Linked DNA regions of Homo sapiens. The protein of the gene in region 2 purifies or fractionates together with the protein of the main gene of each other region. This does not show direct contact. Each region holds a gene or a part of one and is shown on either strand. Other genes may lie near its edges.

Evidence for each region.
Region 1: the proteins of HEXA (region 2) and SEPTIN7 fractionate together in Homo sapiens (co-fractionation; one large-scale study listed by BioGRID). This does not show direct contact.
Region 3: the proteins of HEXA (region 2) and H2AZ2 fractionate together in Homo sapiens (co-fractionation; one large-scale study listed by BioGRID). This does not show direct contact.
Region 4: the proteins of HEXA (region 2) and NSUN2 fractionate together in Homo sapiens (co-fractionation; one large-scale study listed by BioGRID). This does not show direct contact.
Region 5: the proteins of HEXA (region 2) and ROCK1 fractionate together in Homo sapiens (co-fractionation; one large-scale study listed by BioGRID). This does not show direct contact.
Region 6: the proteins of HEXA (region 2) and ACAT2 fractionate together in Homo sapiens (co-fractionation; one large-scale study listed by BioGRID). This does not show direct contact.
Region 7: the proteins of HEXA (region 2) and XPNPEP1 fractionate together in Homo sapiens (co-fractionation; one large-scale study listed by BioGRID). This does not show direct contact.

The regions. Positions count from the first base shown.
Region 1 is NC_000007.14:35,870,557-35,874,056, reverse strand, and holds part of SEPTIN7 (septin-7), read right to left. Parts: intron 1,392-3,500; coding exon 1,291-1,391; intron 417-1,290; coding exon 282-416; intron 1-281.
Region 2 is NC_000015.10:72,355,515-72,359,014, reverse strand, and holds part of HEXA (beta-hexosaminidase subunit alpha isoform 2 preproprotein), read left to right. Parts: intron 1-2,364; coding exon of another isoform or gene 2,365-2,397; coding exon 2,398-2,490; intron 2,491-3,390; coding exon 3,391-3,456; intron 3,457-3,500. UniProt on the Homo sapiens protein: Hydrolyzes the non-reducing end N-acetyl-D-hexosamine and/or sulfated N-acetyl-D-hexosamine of glycoconjugates, such as the oligosaccharide moieties from proteins and neutral glycolipids, or from certain mucopolysaccharides.
Region 3 is NC_000007.14:44,838,088-44,841,587, forward strand, and holds part of H2AZ2 (histone H2A.V), read right to left. Parts: intron 2,926-3,500; coding exon 2,812-2,925; intron 1-2,811. UniProt on the Homo sapiens protein: Variant histone H2A which replaces conventional H2A in a subset of nucleosomes. Nucleosomes wrap and compact DNA into chromatin, limiting DNA accessibility to the cellular machineries which require DNA as a template.
Region 4 is NC_000005.10:6,605,545-6,609,044, reverse strand, and holds part of NSUN2 (RNA cytosine C(5)-methyltransferase NSUN2), read left to right. Parts: intron 1-1,660; coding exon 1,661-1,845; intron 1,846-2,132; coding exon 2,133-2,225; intron 2,226-3,500. UniProt on the Homo sapiens protein: RNA cytosine C(5)-methyltransferase that methylates cytosine to 5-methylcytosine (m5C) in various RNAs, such as tRNAs, mRNAs and some long non-coding RNAs (lncRNAs).
Region 5 is NC_000018.10:21,038,814-21,042,313, reverse strand, and holds part of ROCK1 (rho-associated protein kinase 1), read left to right. Parts: intron 1-78; coding exon 79-217; intron 218-2,750; coding exon 2,751-2,842; intron 2,843-3,500. UniProt on the Homo sapiens protein: Protein kinase which is a key regulator of the actin cytoskeleton and cell polarity.
Region 6 is NC_000006.12:159,775,545-159,779,044, forward strand, and holds part of ACAT2 (acetyl-CoA acetyltransferase, cytosolic), read left to right. Parts: intron 1-605; coding exon 606-728; intron 729-1,757; coding exon 1,758-1,912; intron 1,913-2,625; coding exon 2,626-2,736; intron 2,737-2,953; exon of another isoform or gene 2,954-3,114; coding exon 3,115-3,285; 3' UTR 3,286-3,500. UniProt on the Homo sapiens protein: Involved in the biosynthetic pathway of cholesterol.
Region 7 is NC_000010.11:109,917,012-109,920,511, forward strand, and holds part of XPNPEP1 (xaa-Pro aminopeptidase 1), read right to left. Parts: intron 1-3,500. UniProt on the Homo sapiens protein: Metalloaminopeptidase that catalyzes the removal of a penultimate prolyl residue from the N-termini of peptides, such as Arg-Pro-Pro. Contributes to the degradation of bradykinin.

The DNA.
Region 1 (3,500 bases), on a different chromosome or scaffold from region 2:
TAAATTTGCCACATTGAGACCTCAAACCATGGTGGCAACACTGTTTATTTCATGAAGCAGGGAAAATCCTTATGAATGAAGAACTAAGGAGTAAAATCACTGTTAGCTTATATAGGACTTAAAATGGCTTTTCAACTAAGACATTTCTACATGAAATTTAGTACTTCATAATGGCTATAGTTGTGTGTACTTCACAAACTTAAAGATTACTAAAGTATGCACATAAAGGTAACAGTAAGCAACAACAACAAAAAAGGAATCAGAAGTATCAAGGTACTGACCCATGTCCTGAAGGAGCAATGAAGTATAAACAACACTGCACCCTGTTATCAGGCATCTGACGTCTGTTCACTCGTGATTCTGCATTTAGGTAGTCCTCAAATTTACTATCAATGTAGTCGATAACAGGCTGCCAGCTATAGAACGCAAATAAACAAAACAAGCTGCAATTCTACATATGAATTAACTGATGACTGTTAAAGGACAATAATCAGTATTTTCAAATGGGCAAAATGAATTTACCAGTAGAAGATATGTCAAGTTATTCTATATATTCAAAAATATAAATTATGTTGAATAAATATTCATTATTCAAAACTTTCCAAATGAAAGAAAATAAACTATTTACTGTCGAAACACAGCTAAATATTAGCATATTATTTGCACTAATAAGTGTATTAATAACACACTTCATAATATGAAAACAATTATATGCAGTTTAAAATTTCAAATGAGAGATTACTTTAAATAATAAAAAAACTTCATGGTGAACTTGGGAGTTTTAAGAGTTGACAGAAAATTACCTCAAAAACAATGTGAATTCAAACAAAAATAAAAGTATTATTTATAAAATACTAAGATAATTACTTCAGACTAAAATTTCATAGTTGTTTTCTTCACTTAGGACTTACAGAAAAACTGAAAGTCTAAATATCAGGTTTAAATTAGGATTGAGATAGAATTTATACAAATGAATAAAATTAAAGTGAACAGTTTTAAATTTCTTACAATAATGAGAATTCTTCTATTTACCTATGTTATTTTAGAATATGTCTTAAAAACAATTTTATGATAGGTATTATCTCCATTTTATAGAAAAGTAAATGGGTTCAAAGAAGTTAAACAACTTTGTCAGATAAGTGGCAAAGTTGGTATACAAACCCAAGTCATGTTGCTTGAAGTTTGGTGACCTTTGCTAAGATGAGAAGTTTTAAAATGTTAAGAAGAAAAAGTTTAACCACCCCAGTACCCCAAATGCACTGCAAAGTTGTGAGGACAAACCCTTCTTACCAATTACTATTATCCACTGCATCTCCAAATCCTGGGGTATCAACTATTGTGAGCAGCAACTGAACACCACCTTCTTTGATTAAAACTTTGGATTGTTCCACCTGTAAGAGTAATTGGTGCAGATGTTAATATCATACATTACATCAGTGATTTCCTACAAGGGGTGATGGTAGGGACGTTCGAGTTTATCAAAACCAACTGGGAAACTGTTAGCAAACTAAATCTACCTACTACCACATTACCTTTAGAATTGATGATAGCGGGCATTGGAAATCCAGATTATTTGAAAGAAAAGCATATATACAAATAGTCTGCCAATCTCTTGGCAAATTCATACTGGGTTTATGACTCATACTTGGTATAAAGACAGACAGAGGAACTGATAAAATAGTGATCACCACTAAAGACATGTAATACTTATATAACTTAAATGTGCATCTAATAATACAAATAAGCAGTTTGAGTGATTTAATAATTCACAGAGTTCAAATGTAATTAATCAGAGAAGAACATCTAATCTACCATTTACAGTAAATGTCTTCCTGGACTATTCTCTATCAAGTTTGGCCCCAACCACTCACTCAAATAAACTTACTATCATTCCTTAATCTTTCTCAGCATGGATGTATTACCCTTGTATTTATGTTATGGCTAGGATCCAATCCTTTTCTCAAATGTGATACTCCACATTCTGGACAATGTAATCAGCAAAAGTCCAGACAGTTTTTATTTTAAAAAAAAGTGTATTCTGGTAGGGTGAAACCTTACTAACTGATTATTGGACTTAAATGATAACAACAGTTCCTGGAACAATTTAAGACATTCTGTAATCTCAAGCTCTGTATCAGAAGATGTATTATCATTCATCCTGGGCATATGCTGCTGTTAAATGCAAAATATCAGTTTTCAGGAACCCAAGATAAAGCAAACACGGATTCAAATGAAAAGGGAATAATTCCTCCAGAAAAAGACAGGCTTTCTCCTGATAACACATTTAATAAGGATAACAAGTCCTTATTAAGGCTAGAGGCTCCAAGTATGCTGATAAGCTAATTTACAAGACAAAAAGTTTGGGACACTTTTAGAGATAGCCTACTTCCTTTTGGCATGTTTTATAGATGCTACCTGATGCATGAAGAGACTAACATGCGGAGACTAAGATTGCTGAGCAAGAAAAGTCTGTAGCCACACTATCCAATAACACTTTCTGAGATGATGGAATTGTTGTGTATCCACACTGCATCTCCAAATCCTAGGGTATCAACTATTATGAGCAGCAACTGAACACCACCTTCCACTTGTCCATGTGGCTACTTAGTCCTTGAAATCTGACTACTGCAAATGAGGAGCTGATATTTAATTTTATTTAATTTGAATTAACTTAAATAGCCACATATGGCTAGTGACTACCGAATACACAGCAGAGGTCTACAGCAATCAAGAGTTTTCTGTTAAAAAAATTTTATTATGAGGAATAAAACTTATTAAAACTGAAAAAAATTGCCTGAGATGTGGACACACATGACTTATCTTTTAGAGAAATGAGATGCCAAATTCTTATCTTTTAATGTTCTTTAAACTGCTTTGATCCTGATATAAACTATCAAGTGAAAATTTTGCAGATCCAAAAGATATTTATCCACCAAATATATACTATTGGCAATCTGAATATTAAGTATTAATATGCATTATCATTAATCTGTAGATTAAAAAAGTAAACATCAATAACAGTTGTAATATTTTCTGATCATCCTCAGTATCAATGATTGATGCACATCATTTAGGAGATCACTGTCACATACCACACAACTAAGATAACATGTCTATTATCAGGTTACCCTAATAACATGAGAGAGGCAAAATAACTCAGAGAAAACAATCAGATTCATCAGTGTGAGATCATGAGAACCAAAGGAAAAACATTTTTTTTTTTTTTTTTTTTTAGTCAGGGTCTCACTCTGTTGCTCAGGCTGGAGTGCATGGCAGATTATAGCTTACTGCAGCCTCACTCCTGGGTTCAAGCGATCTTCCCATTTCAGCCTCCCAAAGTGCTGGGCCAAAAAAAATGTTTAATGGTATCATCTCATCTAGTTTAGGAGGTTTACATTTTATCTGGTGATCTTCTAGCCAAAGGACAACCCAGTCAAATCTAACATCTCAATATCTTGAATTCACTTCCATCTCCTTTATAAAGACAGATCATTTATTCA
Region 2 (3,500 bases):
TGCTGGCTGACCGGGCTGTTTGCCATACTGTGCTTCCCACACGTTGGTGCTTCTCAGTGTTCAGGGTGTGGGCGGGTGTGTGTAGAGGCGGCTGTACTACTGTCCCCTGCCTATTTCCTGCCCTCTTCATAGCCAGGCAAAGTAGCAACTTGGAGGCGGAAAACCACAGTGGTGATACCCTATTTACATCCTTTACAATGACCTAGTGTCCCTCCTGTTTTGCCAGCTCTCATGTTGCTGCCTCCCCCAAACATCCCTCTCATAATTTGTTTAAACAGCAGCCATGCCCCCGTATCTACTTCTTTCAGCCCAAACCCAGATGAGTCACTGAGAGAACTTCGGACAGGGATTCTTCACCATGAGATTGATGGCAGGGAGTGGAAGAATTGTAATTCTGGAGAAACAGCCCTTAAATTAGGGGCATTGTTCTGGGAAAAAAAGTGTTTTCCTATTCAGCAGATCTGCAAAGGAGTCTGTGACTCTCCAAAAGACTACAGATTTAGGGAGTACAGTGCAGGTGTCTTTTAGAAAAATAAATTTTTTAAAAATCGAAAGATTAGGTATTTTTCTGTCTTCCAAGTAATAGTTCAGATAAACCTGGTGTTTGTGTGGCCTCTCTTATTTTGTCATGAGGGCAGCGAGCCATGGTAGTTGCATATGGATTAGTTGTGATTTCTCCTTATGTGGCAGGCTGAGCCCCAGAGGATTAGAACTAAAGCTCAGGACTTCGGCTGTCTTTTGGATGGCTGCCTGGGTAGATATGCAGATGAATTCTCCACACAATGATATTGGGGCTCCATGATGTGTGGGGTTGGGAGTGGGGGCAAGAAGTCAGAGGATGGGGTATAGTTTTTCCTCACCCTTGCTCCTAGGTTAAGTCCTCATTGGTCTCCCTGTAGAGTCTCCTGTGGAGATGGGTTTGTAGCCTGTCTGCTTGGATGGCCCTGCAGATTCTGCCTTGAGTGTGGTCTTTGCCTTGAAGGTCTGCTTGTCCTTTTGTGTTGTAACAATGTAGTTTTAGGGTTCAAGTATGGAGCTGTGAATTGACCTGGCCCAGAGTTGCCTCAGATTCCCTCCTCTTTGCAGAATGTAGGCAGGTATTGGTGTGGGGATCCAGGGTATTTACTGGTAAGGGAAAGAATGTGTTGTTCATGATGGTAGGAAAGGCCCCCTTATTGGCTTGCTTCTTGGCAGACCAAAGAGCTGAGATACAGCCATGTGGTAGTGCTCAAGAGGTCTGAGCAGGCTTCCGTGAGATGATCTGAGCGCTTGGATTCCTTCTGCCTGGAGATGGGTAACATTTGAGATTCCAGTTTGGTTCTGAATTCTCTCATTGCCTTCTGCCAGGCCATCCTATCCCTGACATTGTAGTGCCATAAGAAGTCATGGATGTTGTGATGCCAGTGGGATGAATATGGCTCCAGGAAAGAATAGAATAGAGAGGGGTTCATTAAGTTAAGGCTTGGGGCTATAACACCAGAGCCACCCTGAAAATCACAGGGAAGAACCAGCAGGAGGGTGAGAAGAGACAGTGTATTCATATTTTGGCTTTGGCATTTTTTCTGCATAGACAAGGGTCTGTAAAGCTATATTAGATACTATGTTGGTTCAACCCTCCACTATTAGGGTAAAATCTACCTTGGATAGAGAACCTGTTTGGGAAGAGGAAGGAAGGAAGCAAGATGGGTGGGTGACCCTGATCTTCTCTGAGGTATCAGTTGCATCATCTCAGGCCTCCTCTGCCTGATCCTTCTGTCATCTGCTCCATTAGCTCCTAGGCTTTTGCAAAACTGGAAACCCTTCATCTGGAGCCCTCAAGAGCAGTACTACTTAATATGCCAATCTTCAATGAGATAAGAAGCATATGTACCAGAATGTAAGACTGATCTCTTCATCAAGAAAATCTTGTATGAAAAAATGTTAGAACTAGACAGTGTGTTTACTCTGACATAATTGATTTACATTCAGGCTTCATATAAGTTTTCTATATAGTGACCAGCCAGTAACACAGTTTGCAAATTGGCAGCTAATCTGCAGACCATACTTGGAGTAGCAGTGCTCTAGAGCTGCCTTTCATTCAGAAGCAGTTGTTGAGGTCATGGAGTTGTTTGTTTGGTACAGGCCAAGGGCAGTCAGAAATATAGAGCCCTGGTTAAGAAGAGCTGTCACCCAGAGCATTCAGACATGGGTCAGGGCAGCTACTGAGGAGAAGAGGGGCACAACGAGAGTGAGACAGCTGAACAGATGATCAGGCACTGCCTATGCCAAGGGTAAATGCCATGTCCTCCCTTTCCTTTACCACAGGCGTGTGAGCTGAGGGACTAGAGCTAGGGTCTTGGTTTTGCCTGTTGCTTCTAATGGCAGGTTGGCCGCACCAAGCTTACCCTGTCTTCCTAGGGAAACGGCATACACTGGAGAAGAATGTGTTGGTTGTCTCTGTAGTCACACCTGGATGTAACCAGCTTCCTACTTTGGAGTCAGTGGAGAATTGTAAGTACCATCCTGTTCCCTGTCTTAGAAGAGCAAACACTTGTCTGAAGCTGTAACTCTGGATGGCCTGGCCTAAACTGCTGATGCTCGGCCTGGAGTCCCCCTTGACCCTGGGGACCGAGGGTCACCAAGTGCTGAGAGCCATGGAAGATGAGTTTTTCCTATGCAGAAACTTAACCAGTGCTAAAGGTTGGCTGTGGAACATCACACTGGCTCTTCACTGAGTCCCACAGGACTTCTACCTGGTGTACTGAATACATTTCTATTTTAGGAAAGTGTATACTTTGCTACTTTTCTCTAATAGACCCTACACTGGGGAAAGCAGGGGTTCTGGTCACTTATACTGAGATGAAGTTAAGTCATTAGTCCAGTGACTGCCTCCTGTCTTCCCTGAGCAGCATTTGGGGACTTCTCAGTCTCCAAAGTGAACAGTTGAGTTTGGCTCCTTCCTCACATTCTTGGAGGAAGTAGCTGAAGCATAGAGGAAGGGGAAAGGAGGGTGATTACAAAGGCATTGGGAGCATCGCGTGCTGCACTCACCCCTGCAGGCATCCCTGTTCCCTTTGCCAGGAGAAGACTTCTTTCATCTTTCTGCTGTGGAAACTGACCCATGAGGTAGGTGGTGCTTTGTACAGACCTCCACTCCAGCCTGACTCTTGCTGTACATCATCATCCAGGGTCTACAGAGTCACTGTGGTGACCACCCTCCCACTCTGGCCCCAGACCAGGCCATCCTACAGCTGTCTTGCTCTGGGGACATCTCCTCATTGAAAGATTTTTTAAAATATATGGTCTTACTGTTTTTTTTTTTTAGTCCAGTGATTTATATAGAATATCTGGTCTATAATCTGAGAATAGAAAACCTTAACCAACTAAATGAGTTCATTTCTGTCATTTCAGATACCCTGACCATAAATGATGACCAGTGTTTACTCCTCTCTGAGACTGTCTGGGGAGCTCTCCGAGGTAACAAATTGGGGCTGATTAAAAGAGAGAGAGAAAGGATGATG
Region 3 (3,500 bases), on a different chromosome or scaffold from region 2:
AGCCTCCTGAGTAGCTGGGACTATACACAGACACACGCCACCATGCCCAGCTAATTTTTGTATCTTTAGTAGAGATAGGGTTTCACTATGTTGGCCAGAATGGTCTCGATCTCTTGACCTCGTGATCTGCCCACCTCAGCCTCCCAAAGTGCTGGGATTACAGGCGTAAGCCACCGTGCCCAGCCGTGAAATTTATTTCTTAATGCTTATAGAAAAGTTTTAAAATGTATTTTAATTAAAATTTAAAAATTTTTAAAAATAAAAGAGGCCAGGTGGCCTCTTTTAATAAAAGGTGGCTCATGTCTGTAATCCCAGCACTTTGGGAGGCTGGGGCGGACAGATCATTTGAGGTCAGGAGTTCGAGATCAGCCTGGCCAACATGGCAAAACCTTGTCTCTACAAGAAAATAACAAAAATTAGCCAGGTGTGGTGATGCACACCGGTAGCCCCAGCTACTCCGGAGGCTGAGGTGGGAGAATTACTGGAACCCAGAAGGCAGAGGTTGCAATGAGCAGAGATCATGTCCCTGCCTTCCAGCCTGGGAGACAGAGAGAGATCCTGTCTCAAAACAAACACACAAGAAAAACCCCAAAAACAAAACACCCCTTGATCATGACACAGAGAAGCTGAAACTATCCATAACATCCATAATTCGATGTTAAATCCCCAGTGGGACACAGATGACTTGGTGAGACTAATGAAATAAATGACAGCAATGATAACTGACATACAGATTAAAAGCTAAATTCCTCAGCCTAGCTCCCAATCACATCTCCCCAAGTAAGACCCTTCTGTTTCCACCAGAATGAATGCGTCTACACTTGACCTACTTGTTACTCAAATTACTTCCCCAATCTGGAATGTAGCTGAAGTTTTATGACTTCCCAACGGATTTTTTTAAAGGAGGAATAGGGATGGGGAAAGTGGTGGTCTGTGACCCAAGAACTCTTGCCCAATTAACTTGTCTTCCTGAAATTTCAAACTGAGTAATATACAGCAATTTTGTATGTATAACCCTGCAGAGAACCAGGACAGACTGAGTCTTTTACTTCTATTATCATATTTGTGATTTTTATATATCATCACACTGGCCAAACTTTACATCATCCCAAATCTTCATAAACTACAACATTATGCTCTAACTTCACAAATACTGTCTACTGATTACATACATACTTCAAAGTTCACTGGGGTATGGTGGTTTATGTCTGTAATCCCAGCAACTTGGGAGGACCACTTGAGGCTAGGAGTTAGAAACCAGCCTGGGTAACATAGGGAGCCCTGTCTCCACAAAAAAATAAAAAATAGGCTGGGCGCGGTGGCTCACGCCTGTAATCCCAGCACTTTGGGAGGTGGAGGTGGGTGGCTCACGAGGTCAGGAGATCGAGACCATCCTGGCTACCACGGTGAAACCCCGTCTCTACTAAAAATACAAAAAAAAAAAATTAGCCGGGCGTGGTGGCGGGTGCCTGTAGTCCCAGCTACTCGGGAGGCTGAGGTGGGAGAATGGCGTGAATCCGGGAGGCGGAGGTTGCAGTGAGCCGAGACTGCACCACTGCACTCCAGCCTGGGTGACAGAGCGAGCCTCTGTCTCAAAAAAAAATAAATAAATAAAATAAAAATAAAAAATTAGCACCCAGCGCAGTGGCTCACACCTGTAGTCCCAGCACTTTGGGAGGCTGAGGCAAGTGGATCACCTGAGGTCAGGAATTTGAGACTGACCTGGCCAACATGGTGAAACCCAGTCTCCTCTAAAAATACAAAAATTAGCCGGGTGTAGTGGCGGGTGCCTGTAATCCCAGTTACTGGGGAGGCTGAGGCAGGAGAATTGCTTGAACCCAAGAAGTGGAGGTTGCAGTGAGCCAAGATTGTGCCATTGCACTCCACCTGGGATACAGAGCAAGACCCTGTCTCAAAATAAATAAATAAATAAATAAATAAATAAATAAATAAATAATTAGCCAGGTGTGGTGGCACACACCTGAAGTCACAGCTACTAGGGAGGCTGAGGCAGGAGGATCCTTTGAACCCAGGAGGTTTGAGGTTGGAGTGAGCTATGATCATGCCACTATACTCCAGCCTAGGTGACAGAGTGAGACCCAGTCTCAAAATAAAAAAATAAAAATAAAAGATAAGAGATTGCTGGCCCTTGCTTAACTTTTAAAAATTTTTTTACTTTGAGATAGGGTCTTGCTCTGTCACCCAGCCTAGTCTGGAACTCCAGGACTCAAGTGTACAATCTACCCACCTCAGCCGCCCAAAGTGTTGGCATTACAGGCGTGAATCACTGTGCCCAGCCCCTTGCTTAGCTTTAAAAACAAGTACACCAAGGTTCTTTTACATTGGCATTGGGTAATAGCTGACAAGATGCATCTCAAACTGCTATTAAAGAAACCAATGAGGCCGGACGTGGTGGCTCAAGCCTGTAATCTCAGCACTTTGGGAGGCTGAGGCAGGTAGATCACCTGAGGTCAGGAGTTTGAGACCAGTGTGGCCAACATGGTGAAACTCTGTCTCTACTAAAAATACAAAAATTAGCTGGGCACAGTGGTGCACACCTGTAGTCCCAGCTACTTGGGAGGCTGAGGTGGGAGAATCGCTTGAATCCGGGAGGCAGAGGTTGCAGTGAGCCGAGACTGGCCATTGCACTCCAGCCTGGGAAACAAGAGTGAAACTCTGTCTCCAAACAAACAAACAAAAAAGCCCCAGTGAGCATAATATGTCTTTTTTCAAATATATTCCATGGGTTTCTGTCACTGAGACTAGTGCACCTTCTGGATGGCCATATACAACAGACATTCCTGTACAAACCTCTGCAGTGAGGTACTCCAGAATCGCAGCACTGTACACGGCAGCAGTGGCACCCACCCTTCCATGGCTTGTGGTGCGAGTCTTCAAGTGTCTGTGGATGCGGCCCACAGGAAACTAAAAGAGAGATGTCTTAGTGGGAAGCACTGCAGAGTCTTAACATTGCACTGACTGTAATCAAAGGCTGAACAATGTAAGCATGAAATAATAAAAAACTTGATCACACATATCAGAAGCCAAACCTATTACGCATCAATAGTTCCCAGGGCCTGTGTCTCTGTTCTGGTAATCTGTCCAAAATCTTTAACCTCTGCATAATATGGGAAATATCACTCTAAAATGAAGAAATACCACGCTGGGCTGTCATCAACTGTACGTTCAACATGACCCATGGATCAAATTCCTATCTAGTTAATTTCTTCACATAATAGCCACATGCAACTTTGAACCTCCAATACCTTCCTCAGATCTTAAATGTTCTTTCTTCAGTTTCAAGAGGTGATCTGATAGTTAAGAAAAATCAATACTATTATCTCATTGTGGTTCTTTCTACTTTCTGAAAAAGAGGGTATTTTTCTCATTTCAAAGTATCCTGATCCCACTTGTCTGTGCCCTTTATTATTTTTTTTATTGAGACAGAGTCTCACTCTGTCACCCAGGCTGGAGTGCAGTGGCGCCATCTTGGCTCACTG
Region 4 (3,500 bases), on a different chromosome or scaffold from region 2:
TGCAGTTTAACGTTGGAACGTACAGCCTCAGACGGGCAAAGGGGGCGACTGCACTTCTGCCGCCACCAGGGTTTTTCTGTCAGGTTAGAAAGTATTTCACTTTGAGGCTAAAAGTCTCACAAGGTATCTTAACGCTGATGGAATGTTATTTTCATGGAATCAGTATAAGAAATTATATTGTAAAGTATTAGATACTTTGCATTCATTCATACTAGGTTTCAGTAGCTTGTGTTTTAGACTTTGCGCTTGTCACATTTTAAGTGGTCAGTGACCACAGGCTTGTGGCTGCCCAGCTGCAGAGCACAGTGCAGTCACAGAGGAGCCTGTCTTAGAGACGCGTGCTTTAGGTTGGCCTGCATTAGGGCTTACATTGATGTTTCTGACGTGTTAATACTTACATAGAAAGGTTTTGACATTTTTTCAATTAGCCCCTTATGTATAGTCTTACTTTTTAGAACAACTTATTGTCATTTTCTCGTTTAAATAATATGAATACTTCTCTCTTTCTGTTACTATGTCAGTTTCTTATTCACTTAGTTCAACAGATCTAGTGCTAGCATGGCCTGTGCTGCTGTTGGTCCTACTGGGAACGCAGGTAGAGTCTCCATGGTCAGGATGCCGTGTTCTGTTGTGGTGCTGAGGCCTGTAAGCACTTGGCTAGAAGTTAGGCCAGGGAAGCTCACACTGACCTTGGTATTTGAAGGTCCCAGAATGAGGTTGTTGAGGTAGAACAGAGATGGGAGAACATGCCCTTGGAGCTGGACTCAACAAGAAGGCCCCTCTGGGGGAAGCTGAGGTTGGACAGGAAGGGCGTGTGCCCTCACTGACTTGCTCACAGGCTTGGGGTTCATCTGTTTTGGTTTTTGCTTTTTTACATTATATTAACATGGAAATAAAAGGTGTTCCCTGGGATGCTCCCGGCTTCTCTGCTCAGTAGCTTTGTGGCTCTGAGTAAAATGAACTTGCCTGTGTTGAAATATCCTAATTTTTAAACTTACTTCATAGGGACTGAGGAATTACGACTTTTATCAATTTTGTGACCTGTTAAAATGTTAAAAAGGACATGTATTTTTTAAAGATCTTTAAGTAAAACATTTTGCTCATTCCCAAAGCCAAATTTAAATTATACCATGGCCCTAATTCAGAAGTTCATTCTTTGGCAGGTGTTTCCTTGGTGCCTGGGGCACTCTCTCTTTCTCCCAGTTCCTGTGGCAGTTTGTCCAGGTGCCCAAGAACAATTCATACCCTCCTTTCTCGTTATTTATATACTTGTCTTTTTGCCCCTGCCGGGTATTTTAGAAATCGTGCTTGGTGCACTTTGTGTCCTTCAGTGTGCCTTACCCAGAGCAGATGCACGATAAGCATTTTTACACGAGAACAAGCTGGTGGTGTAGGCCTCTGCTAAGGAACAGGCTGTATATGCTCTTTGTGGGATTAAGGTAGAATCAGCTTTAACTCCAAAGAAACTGTCCATGAATTTTGTTTATAATAGCAAGTAGATTTAAAATGACACTTTAAAAAAATTCTGTTGTCTTTCTCTACATATAATGCTGTAGAAAAATATAACTGATGGATTTTGTGAACGTGGTATTTTTAACTTTTCGTAGCAGCACAAAGAATGCTCCTCTTTGTGTGTCAATGAAATTGTTCTTTATGACAGCTTCAGGGTAAATCTGCAGAGACCAGAGAAAGCACACAGCTGAGCCCTGCAGATCTCACAGAAGGGAAACCCACAGATCCCTCTAAGCTGGAAAGTCCGTCATTCACAGGAACTGGTGACACAGAAATAGCTCATGCAACTGAGGATTTAGAGAATAATGGCAGTAAGAAAGATGGCGTGTGTGGGTAAGAAAAGTGGTTATGTCTTGATCTAATACGCTGGTGTCTTCACAGTCCTTTTGGATTAAATGGGATCCCAGAGCCACTTCTTGGTCGGTTTGAGGGGGCAGTACATGTGTGGTATCAGGCACATGCAGTGTGAGGGCTGGACTCTGTGGAAGCCGGAAGGTTTCAACATCTGCCGCAAACCGTTCCATGTTGCACAGAACTGACAGAAAGGAAGAATGTGCTTTTGGTATTGAAGGTTACCACACATTACAGATTGATTTGTCTCATCCTGATTCCCTTTTTAGTCCTCCTCCATCAAAGAAAATGAAGTTATTTGGATTTAAAGAAGATCCATTTGTATTTATTCCTGAAGATGACCCATTATTTCCACCTATTGAGTAAGGATTCAGCCTTTTTAATTATTCATTTAAAGAAATTTACTATAGAGTATCAAATGTACAACTGATCACATGTAACCATTGTTTTGTATGTAGTTCTGTCTAGCTTTTTTTTTTTTTTTAACCTTTTTAACTGCATATTAGAGCAGGATGAAACTTTAGAGGTTACTCAATCTTTTAATTTAAGGAGAAAGTAAACTTTTACTTTGTGAACATGATAGATAAAAAAAAACTGGACCGGGCGCGGTGGCTCACGGCTGTAATCCCAGCACTTTGGGAGGCCGAGACGGGCGGAGCACGAGGTCAGGAGATTGAGACCATCCTGGCTGACACGGTGAAACCCCGTCTCTACTAAAAATACAAAAAAAATTAGCCGGGCGTGGTGGCGGGCACCTGTAGTCCCAGCTACTCTGGAGGCTGAGGCAGGAGAATGGCGTGAACCTGGGAGGTGGAGCTTGCAGTGAGCCGAGATCGCGCCGCTGCACTCCAGCCTGGGCGACAGAGCGAGACTCCGTCTCAAAAAAAACAAAAGAAAACTGGACTGTGATTATGAATCTAAATTAGTTGTGATCCTGAACCTAAATTACTCAATTGAGTATATAGACGAGTAGCCAAGGTTGTCTAGTTCAGTTTCTGTAGAAGAAATGAAGAGCAGCATGGGTGAGGGCTAATTAGGGATGACATAGACAGAATATAGAGGAAAAGGGTTTAGGACAAGTCTGACATTCATCTGTTTCTTATTCATTGAATTTTAGAATCTATTTACCAGGGCGGTCACTTACTGTCTTTTTTAATAACTGGTCCTTTGCATACATTTGTAAAAGTCTATTAAAAAATAAGTCTCAGCCGGGCACATCCCAGCACTTGGGGAGGCTGAGGCAGGCAGATCATGAGGTTAGGAGTTTGAGACCAGTCTGACCAATGTGGTGAAACCCCGTCTTTACTAAAAATACAAAAAAAAATTAGGTGTGGTGGCGTGCACCTATAATCACAGCTACTCAGGCTGAGGCAGGAGAACCGCTTCAACCCGGGAGGCAGAGGTTGCAGTGAGCTGAGACTGCGCCACTGCACTCCAGCTTGGAAGACAGAGCAAGACTCCATATCAAAAAAAAAAAAAAAGTCTCAAAAGTAGTGTTATCAGGTCATTATCATTGGAGTAGCGGCTGAGGGAGAGAAGCTGCACTTGTTAATTTAGGTTTCTGATGGAGTTGTGCCCCAAATAAATGTTACGTGGAGGTTTCAGGTGGAAGTGGATGAAGTTTAGAAGCTGGAGTC
Region 5 (3,500 bases), on a different chromosome or scaffold from region 2:
AACTTTGACTCTTCCTTTGAAACTGACTTTTTAAAAATGTATTTCATTTTGCTTTTGTTTTCTTTATCAATTTTTCAGGTGATACACCTTTTTATGCAGATTCTTTGGTTGGAACTTACAGTAAAATTATGAACCATAAAAATTCACTTACCTTTCCTGATGATAATGACATATCAAAAGAAGCAAAAAACCTTATTTGTGCCTTCCTTACTGACAGGTAAATAATTTTAAAACTGAGCCTGTATTAATTCTGAGGACTTCTCATCTTCTGCTCCATTTTTAAGGTCCATATCTGAGCTTCTACATGTAAATTGTTAGAATATAAATGACAGTGAAACCTGATGTAATTTTATGATATTCTAGATGTCTTTTGTAGATCTCAACTCACTTATCATACCTAAGAAATTGTGATAATAATACAGTCTTGGCTGATGGCTAAACTAGATGACTTTTTTCTTTTATTGTTCAATTTTTAACTTGGTTAATTATAAAAATTACTGTGTATTTTACTGAATCTAAAAAAATTTTTTAACATAACATCTCTGAAATTAGAGTACATCTCACAGTCAATGGTATGAGTTGGGAGCATCCTTTTTCATAGTGGTATAAAAACGGTGATACACCTTATACTTTAAACCATTTTAGATTTGATGATGTATGGTATATGGTTGTTGAAAGAGTCAATAGTATAAAGCCATTTTTAAAAGTATACTATCTTTTTTCTTCTAGACATAATAGTTGGTGTTCCATCTTGTAGATCCAACAAGCATTTTAATAATAATGTCTGTCTGCATTTTTGAAAGAAAAATGGCATATTATATATACCTTTGTGGTTTACTTTTGAAATTTGAAAGTGAACCAGATGTATTAGTAAGATTATATTTAATGTTTATGATTGTATATTGTTAAATATTAGGGAGACCTAGTACTTTTAAATATGTTTCAAGTTGAGATTTGCTTTAACTTGTCTCCCTTCATTATGTCCTTTAGAGCTTGAAGTATGGTTTTTCAAATGTTTACTTTTTTTTTTTTTTTTTTTTTTTAAATAGAGACAGGGTTTTGCTCTGTTGCCCAGGCTGGTTTCAAACTCCTGGGATCAAGTGATCCTCCCACTTCAGCTTCCCAAAGTGCTGGGATTACAGGCCTGAGCCACCCATGCCTGGCTAATTTTTACATTGATTGATTGATTGATTGAGACAGAGTCTCACTCTGTTGCCCAGGCTGGAGTGCAGTGGCATGATCTCGGCTCACTGCAACCTCCACCTCCCGGATTCAAGTGATTCTCCTGCCTCAGCCTCCCAAGTAGCTGTGACTACAGGTTCCTGTCACCATGCCTGGCTAATTTTTGTATTTTTGATAGAGAGGGTTTCACTATGTTGGCCAGGCTGGTCTTGAACTCCTGACCTCATGATCTGCCTGCGTTGGCCTCCCAAAGTGCTGGGATTACAGGTGTGAGCCACCGCACCTGGCCAATTTTTACATTTTAATATAAAGCATTGTATTATGCTGTTTATTAGGTGCTAGGGATATAGTAGTGAGGAAGATACAGAGCCACTTTTCTCAAATACCTCATAGTCCTTTGGGGGAATTAGATAAGCAAATCAGACATTTATAGTACACACAGCTAATTACCATGAGATAAGTACCATGTGCCGGAGAACCATGGAGAGGTTTTCTAATCCAGTTTGAGAGTTAGTGAAAGCTTCTTGGAAAAATTGTCACATGTCTAAGCCAACTTATCTTTTAGCTTATGCAAAAACTTAGAATTTAGAGTATTTTCTTTATTTATAAGCACTGTACTAGGGAAAAAAGGTGCTAACTTTCTTTTTCCAATTCAGCTAAAATCACATTTTTAAAAACTTTTTGCTCACCAAAAAAGAGGCTGGTATCAGTAACTTGTCCAGTGAAAGCTCTGAATTCTGTGGCAGTATCAAGAATTAGTAGTCATTGGCTTTTGAATGGTCAGAAATAATTAATAGATTATAAATTGGAAGTTCAAAATTTTAAATGTGTTTCTGGAGGTTTTTGGTAGCATCTGGTATTGCTGCCTAAGTAAAGTTTTGGTTGGGGAAAAAAAAGCCTAACTTTACCATTGTAAGAAAAAAATAACACACACACACAAAAAACTGTCAAGAAAATGCATGGTGCTTTATTCATTTTGCTAATGAAGTAAGGTGGTGATTAATCTGGATTTTTGTTGTCAGTAGAAAAGTCATGGGTGTTTTTTGTAGTTATTCTTTAGTTTTCTTTTTTTTGAGACGGAGTCTCGCTGTGTTTCATCCAGGCTGGAGTGCGGTGGCGCAATCTCAGCTCACTGTAGCCTCTGCCTCCCGGGTTCAAGCGATTCTCCTGTCTCAGCCTCCCAAGTAGCTGGGACTACAGGCGTGTTCCAGTACACCCGCTAGTTTTATATTTTTAGTAGAGATGGGGTTTCACAGTGTTGGCTGGGCTGGTCTCGAACTCCTGACCTCAGGTGATCCACCCCACCTGAGCCTCCCAAAGTGCTGGGATTATAGGCATGAGCCACCATGTCCAGCCTTTCTTTAGTTTTCTTTTAAAAAAATTCTTTAATGTTCTCAATCTTTAACATATTTTCTATTTGGGCTGATACTATGCTGACAATATAATTTCACCTTAGAACTATATTTGTCGTCCTACACTGATTTAATATCCTGCCCACAAATAAACCTGGACAGGTTATAATAAGATCTTAAATGATTGATTACTTTTCTCCTTCTGTCATTATTCAGGGAAGTGAGGTTAGGGCGAAATGGTGTAGAAGAAATCAAACGACATCTCTTCTTCAAAAATGACCAGTGGGCTTGGGAAACGCTCCGAGACAGTAAGTTTTTTTTTTTCTTTCATATTTTAGTGAATATTTGAAAGTAGTTGTGGTAGTTTGTTGAAACTACATTGCTAAATATTTGTGTGTATCTGATGAAAATCAGAAGCCACAAATACTATATGGGAATTGTCCTAACCTATTAATTTGATAATATTGGGCAGATTATATTGTTACTCCTCTTATGTCCCACGCAGGATACCCAGATGAAATATAAATGTAATGGATTTAGGCTCACCAGTCATAATTTTACATTTGATCTTTGTTGAATTGTTCATTTTAGGCGTTAGTTATCTTATTATGGAGGTGGTCAATAAGTAGTAAGTAATGAGATTAAAATATATGTTTTTGTGAGAAGACAAGTTATTCTCTTGTTTTTATTAAAACCCAAAATATAAGAAGGTTCTATTATTAATTCCAGAATTCAATTTAATTTTATTTATGAGTTTATAGGATATTGTGATATACTTGATTCCATCAGGCTTTTGCAGCTGGCAATTCAGAAACAAAAATGTATTGTATAAGAAACTAATTTTCAGTCAGTTTAGAACACTTTCTTACTTTTTAAAAAAAGTTAAAATTACAAGATGATTCACAGAAAACTCTACAACATAGCTGAATCAAAATTATCATGACACCAAAGGTTCTCATCATCTTC
Region 6 (3,500 bases), on a different chromosome or scaffold from region 2:
ACTGTGCACACACAGCAGGTTTCATGAGAAGCTGGAGCACTGGCTCATGGTTGTTAGGAGGCACCAGCTGACCTGTTTCCTGTATAGGCTCAACCTCCTCAGAAGTGGACACCCATTACTTCTCGCTGTTTCTGTGTGATCTCCATTTCACATTTCTAAAGGGTGGATCTTTTGGGGTCACTCGCTATTTTCTAATACAGAATGCTCCCGTCAAGCTCCCTTATTGATAACTGATATCTCTTATGTCCTGCCAGCAGTGCACGATTGGCTTTGAGACTGCCTGATCCACTCACTCGTAACCAGCCAAGTACTATGACCCAAACTATAGCAGAATTTGGCACAAACAGGTCCCTGGTAGCTACTTTCCTCAGGAAGGCCTATGGATTTGGAAAACACAGGTGTCTCATAAGGACATACTCATAAATTGTTTTCATGTACAATAATTCTTGTGTGTACTTTCCTCCTGTTGTCATCAAAGTGGTCACATATTAAAACTTTTCTGCTAAATATGAATCCTCATGTTTAATGGCAGAGAACCCACCATTCCCAGCACACTTACTTCTGTCTCTGGACTAATCTTGAGTAATTGGTTTTCCTTTGCTTAGGTCTTATTGAAGTTAAAACAGATGAGTTTCCTCGCCATGGGAGCAACATAGAAGCCATGTCCAAGCTAAAGCCTTACTTTCTTACTGATGGAACGGGAACAGTCACCCCAGCCAATGCTTCAGGTTAGATTTTCTGAAGGACATCTGGGGGAATACTATGTTCTATAATGTCTACCGAGTGAATATTTTTCTCTTTATTTATATACAAAAGTACTATTTTTTGGGACAGGGACTCACTCTGCCAGCCAGGTTCGTGTGCAGCAATATGATCATTGCTCACTTGCAGCCTCAAACTCCTGGGCTCAAGTGAGCCCCCTGCCTTAACCTCCCAAGTAGCTGGGGGACTACAGGCATGAGCCACCACACCCAACTCAATATTTATGTACAAAATTATTCTTAAAACAGTTTAAGGAAACATGTCATTTCTCTGTATTTGATCATTGACTTAACCTATACTGAAAGAATTAATTTGGTTTCTTGACATCCCAACTAGACATACAAATGAAGAAGTAAATTAGGGAACTTCAGTTTATCTACCTTTGTATTTTTCCAGTACCAGAAACTCCCAATACCTCCTTGTGAAGCCCAGGCTTATTCTTCCATTTCCTGTCAGAGATCTCCCCTCCCCAACTGCTGTAATCCTTTTTTTTTCTTTTTGAGACGGAGCCTCACTCTGTCGCCCAGGCTGGAGTGCAGTGGTGCAATCTTGGCTCACTGCAATCTCCGCCTCCCAGGTTCAAGCAATTCTCCTGTCTCAGCCTCCTGAGTGGCTGGGACTACAGGCGCACACCACCACACCGGCTGATTTTTCTATTTTAAGTAGAGATGGCTTTCACCCTATTGGTCAGGCTGGTCTCAAACTCCTGACCTCAGGTGATTCACCCTCCTCCACCTCCCAAAGTGCTGGGATTACAGGCGTGAGCCACCACGCCCAGCCCCGACTACTGTAATCCTACCACTTTCTCTAGTTGGAAAGTTTTGTGGTCAATATATTGCCAAACATAATTTCTATGTAAAGTCTGTTGAATTATAGTAAATGCCTTAGCCAACAGGTAAAATCATTTAACTCATGTCTTCAGGTGGTAAAGAAGCCACAGATATGTAACTGAGGTTAATAAGCATGGTAGAAATTAAGTCACTCATATTTTACAGGAATAAATGATGGTGCTGCAGCTGTCGTTCTTATGAAGAAGTCAGAAGCTGATAAACGTGGGCTTACACCTTTAGCACGGATAGTTTCCTGGTCCCAAGTGGGTGTGGAGCCTTCCATTATGGGAATAGGACCAATTCCAGCCATAAAGCAAGCTGTGAGTATAACCCTATTCCCTTTTATGAAATTTGTCTTCCTGTTAGCCTTAAGTGAGCTTATTCATGTAGTTAGCTCTAGTCTTTCCCTACCAGAAGAGTAACCAAGAGCATTTATTTCTATTTTTGAGATAAGGTCTTGCTCTGTTGTCCAGGCTGGAGTGCAGTGGCACCATCATAGCTCACTGCAGCCTCAAAACTCCTAGGCTCAAATATTCCTCCTGCCTTAGCCTCCCATTACCTCGAACTACAGGTGCACCACGCCTTCTTCATTTCGTAGAGACAAGGTCTATGTCGCCCAGGCTGGTTTTGAACTCCTGAGTTCAATTGATCCTCTTGCCTTAGGCTCCCCAAGTGTTGAGATTTCAGGTGTGAGCCACTACCCCCAGCCACTGAGAGCATTTGGATCACATGCTTTCTAGGGGAACTGATTCTGTTACATTAGCCTTAGGTACACATAACAGATGCTACTGGTTCAAAATTTTAAGACAATTTAGAATTTCTAAGGGATCTTTTAGATCACACCCTTAACCTTTTGGATGGAATGGATGTCACTAAGGCAAAAATGTGTGAGAATGTCACTGTATTAACCTAAGAACAAACCAAAGTAGCAGTTACCAGTATCATGCAGCATATATTTATGTTGACAAAGAATGGTTTAACTTTAGCCTTTCCACCCAAGTTTAGACCTCTTTTCTATGAATCTTTCCTCTAGGTTACAAAAGCAGGTTGGTCACTGGAAGATGTTGACATATTTGAAATCAATGAAGCCTTTGCAGCTGTCTCTGCTGCAATAGTTAAAGAACTTGGATTAAACCCAGAGAAGGTAAAGATGCACAAGTAACCCTGAGAGCTTACCAGTGAATTTCACAATCCAATTTTAAGATAGTATCTTCTAGGTGTTGGCCATGTGGGTAATAGTTAAAGAAATACTAGTTACTAGGACTGAGTTCATTACTTCCCAAGGTTTAAAAAAAAAAAAAAAAAAAAAAAAAGACATTGGCTTACTTGGCATAAAAGGAACGAGGTAAGATAGGCAGGGATGAATTTTCACAAAGGTGTAAATTTATTCCTAAGCAGTTAAAATGAAAATTTGAGTTTGAAAGGGTAGCATGCTGATACATTAAGAGGAAAAAGACAAGTTTAAGATTTTAAACTGTGTCCACAGAAGAATAAACAATCTAAATCTTTTCTCCCCCGTTAGGTCAATATTGAAGGAGGGGCTATAGCCTTGGGCCACCCTCTTGGAGCATCTGGCTGTCGAATTCTTGTGACCCTGTTACACACACTGGAGAGAATGGGCAGAAGTCGTGGTGTTGCAGCCCTGTGCATTGGGGGTGGGATGGGAATAGCAATGTGTGTTCAGAGAGAATGAATTGCTTAAACTTTGAACAACCTCAATTTCTTTTTAAACTAATAAAGTACTAGGTTGCAATATGTGAAATCAGAGGACCAAAGTACAGATGGAAACCATTTCCTACATCACAAAAACCCAAGTTTACAGCTTGTACTTTACTTTAATGTGTAATACTCAACTCAAGGTACAAGACAATTGCATTTAACATTGTTATAAATAAAAGGAACATCAGA
Region 7 (3,500 bases), on a different chromosome or scaffold from region 2:
TCTTAATGCTGAAAGACTGAATGCTTTCCCCTATAATCTAGGGAATGTCTACTCTTGGCAGAGTAGACAGGGATGTCTACTCTTGGCATTTCTATTCAACATTGTACCAGAAGTTCTATCTAGGGTAAGTAGGCAAGAAAATGAAACAAAAGGCATCCAGTTTAGAAAAGAAGAAGTAAAACTATCTCTATTTGCAATTGACATAATCTTGAATACAGAAAATCCTAAAGAATCCACAAACAAAATTAGAACTAATAACTGAGTTCATCAAGAATGCAGGATACAAAAATCAATATTTAAAAAATCAATTTGACTTCTATATCCTTGTAATGAGCAATTCAAAAATAAAATTAAGAAAAGTCCATTTACAATATCAAAAACAAAAAATAGTTAGAAATAAATTTAACAAAAGAAGTGCAAAATGTACACCACAAAAACTAAAAAAGACTGCTGAAAGTAACTGAAGAAGACCTAAATAAACAAAAGCTATTCCATGGTCATGGATTGGAAGGTTTACTATTGGTAAGATGGCAGTAATTCCCAAATTGATCTATGGACTCAATGCATTCCCTGCCAAAATTCTAGCTAGCTTGGAGGTTGAAACTGACAAGCAGATTCTAAAATTCATATGGAAATGCAAGGGACCCAGAATAGCCAAAACAATCTTGAAAAAGAACAAAATCTTGAAAAGAACTCTTCCATCCCAATTTCAAACCTAAATACAAGACAGTGTGGTGCTAGCATAAGAATGGACTTACAAATGAGTAAAACAGAATTAACAGTCCAGAAATAAACCCTCACAACTGTCAACTGATTTTTGAGGATGCCAAAACCATTCAATGGGGAAGGAATAGTCTCTTCCACAAATGGTGCTGGGACAAGTGAATATCCACATGCAAAAGAATAAAGTTTCCAACATGGCAAAACTCCGTTTCTACAAAAAATACAAAAATTAGTCAGGCATGGTGGTGTGCACCTGTAGTCTCAGCTACTCTGGAGGCTGAGGTGGGGTGGATCACTTGAGCCCTGGAGGTCAAGGCTGCAGTGAGCCATGATAGCACCACTGCACTCCAGCTTGGGTTACAGAGCAAGACCCTGCCTCAAAAAAAAAAACAAAAAAACAAAAAAGCCCAGGCACAATGACTCACATCTGTAATCCCAGCACTTTGGGAGGCCAAGGCAGGCAGACTGCCTGAGTCCCAGGGTTCGAGACTAGCTTGGGCAACATGGCAAAACCCATCTCTACAAAATTTACAAAAATGAGCCAGGTTTGGTGGTGCACACCTGTGGTCCCAGCTACTTAGGAGGCTGAGGCAGGAGGATCGCTTAAGCCAGAGAGGTTGAGGCAGCAGTGAGCTGTGATCGCCCCACTGCAGTCTAGCCTTGGTGACACAGAGAGACCCTGTCTCAAAAAAAGAAAAATGAAGTTTAACCCACTTCATATCATATTCAAAAATTAACACAAATGGGCCGGGCACGGTGGCTCACGCCTGTAATCCCAGCACTTTGGGAGGCCGAGGTGGGCAGATCACGAGGTCAGGAGATCCAGACCATCCTGGCTAACACGGTGAAACCCTGTCTCTACTAAAAATACAAAAAATTAGCCAGGCATGGTGGCGGGCGCATGTAGTCCCAGCTACTCGGAAGGCTGAGGCAGGAGAATGGTGTGAACCCAGGAGGGGGAGCTTGCAGTGAGCTGAGATCGGGCCACTGCACTCCAGCCTGGGCGACAGAGCAAGAGAAAAGGAAAGAAAGAAAGGAAGACAGGAAGGAAGGAGAGGAAGGAGAGGAAGGAAAGGAAAGAAAGGAAAGAAAGGAAAGGAGGAAGGAAGGAAGGAAGGAAGGAGGGAAGGAAGGAAGGAAGGAAGGAAGGAAGGAAGGAAGGAAGGAAGGAAGGAAGGAAGGAGAGAGAGAAAAAAGAAAAAGAACGAAAAGGAAGGAAAGGAAGGAAAGAAAAGAAAGAAAGAAAATAAAAAAAAATTAACCCAAATGGATCACAGGTATGAACGTAGGCGCTAAACTGTAAAACTCTTATAGCGCAACCATAAGTCTGCCTGACCTTGGATTAGGCAATGACTTCTTTAGACACAAATCAAAAAGCACAGCAACAAAAGAAAAAAGAGATACACTGGACTTCATCAGAATTTAAAATGTTTGTGTTTCAAAGGATACCATCAAGAAAATGGATGACAACCCACAGAATGGGAGAAAACATCTGTAAATCTGTTGAGTCTAGTATCCAGAATATATAAAGAACTATTATAACTCAACAATAAAAAGACATATAACCCAATTTTAAATGGGCTAAGGATCTGAATAGACATTTCTCCAGCAAAAGTACACAAATGACCAAGAAGTACATGAAAAGATGCTCATCATTAGTCATTAGGGAAACACAAATCGAAACCACAATGTGATACCACTTCACACCCACTAGGAAGGTTATAATAAAAAAGATTGACAGTAACAAGTGCGGGTGAGGGTATAGAAAAAATTAGAACCCTCAAACATTCCTGATGAGAATGTAAAATGGTGTAATGGCTTTGGAAAACCATTCCTAGGTACACAATCAAGAAAATTGAAAATATATATCCTTATAAAAAGTTGTACACAAATATTCACAGCTGCATTATTTGTAACAGCCAAACTGTAGGAACAACTCAAATGCCCAACTGATAAATGGATAAATAAAAGTGTCTATCCATATAATGGAATGTTCTTTGCCAATAAAGGGAAATCACGCCAGGCGCGGTAGCTCACGCCTGTAATCCCAGCACTTTGGGAGGCTGAGACGGGCAGATCATGAGGTCAAGAGATAGAGACCATCCTGGCCAACATGGTGAAACCCCATCTCTACTGAAAATACAAAAATTAGCTGGGTGTGGTGGTGCACACCTGTAGTCCCAGCTACTCAGGAGGCTGAGGCAGGAGAATCACTTGAACCCGGGAGGTGGAGGCTGCAGTGAGCCAAGATCGTGCCACTGCACTCCAGCCTGGCAACAGAGCAAGACTCCGTCTCATTTAAAAAAAAAAAAAGAAAGAAAAGAAAGAAATCACACCTATGACATAGGTGAACCTTGAAAACATGCTAAGGGAAAAAGCCTAATACAAAAGACCACATAGTATATGATTCTATTCACATAAAATGTCCAGAATAGGCAAATCGGTAAAGACAGGAAGTAGACATGCAGTGTTGGTGGTTGCCAAGGGCTGAGGTGAGGAGTGACTGATTACAGGTAACAGGATTTCTTTCGGGGATGAAGAAAATGTTCTAAAATGATTGTGATGATAGTTGTACAACTCTGTGACTATACTAATAACTTGAATTGTACATTTTAACAGATGAATTGTATATAAGTGAATTATATCTCAATAAAGCCATTATAAATTTTATAACATCTCTTTCTTGTGGACAGGGATACAAGTCAGATTCTCACCGAATTTCCCATTACTTCATACGTAAGTTTCTAAGATGGTAAGTAACTGATCCCAATGACTGG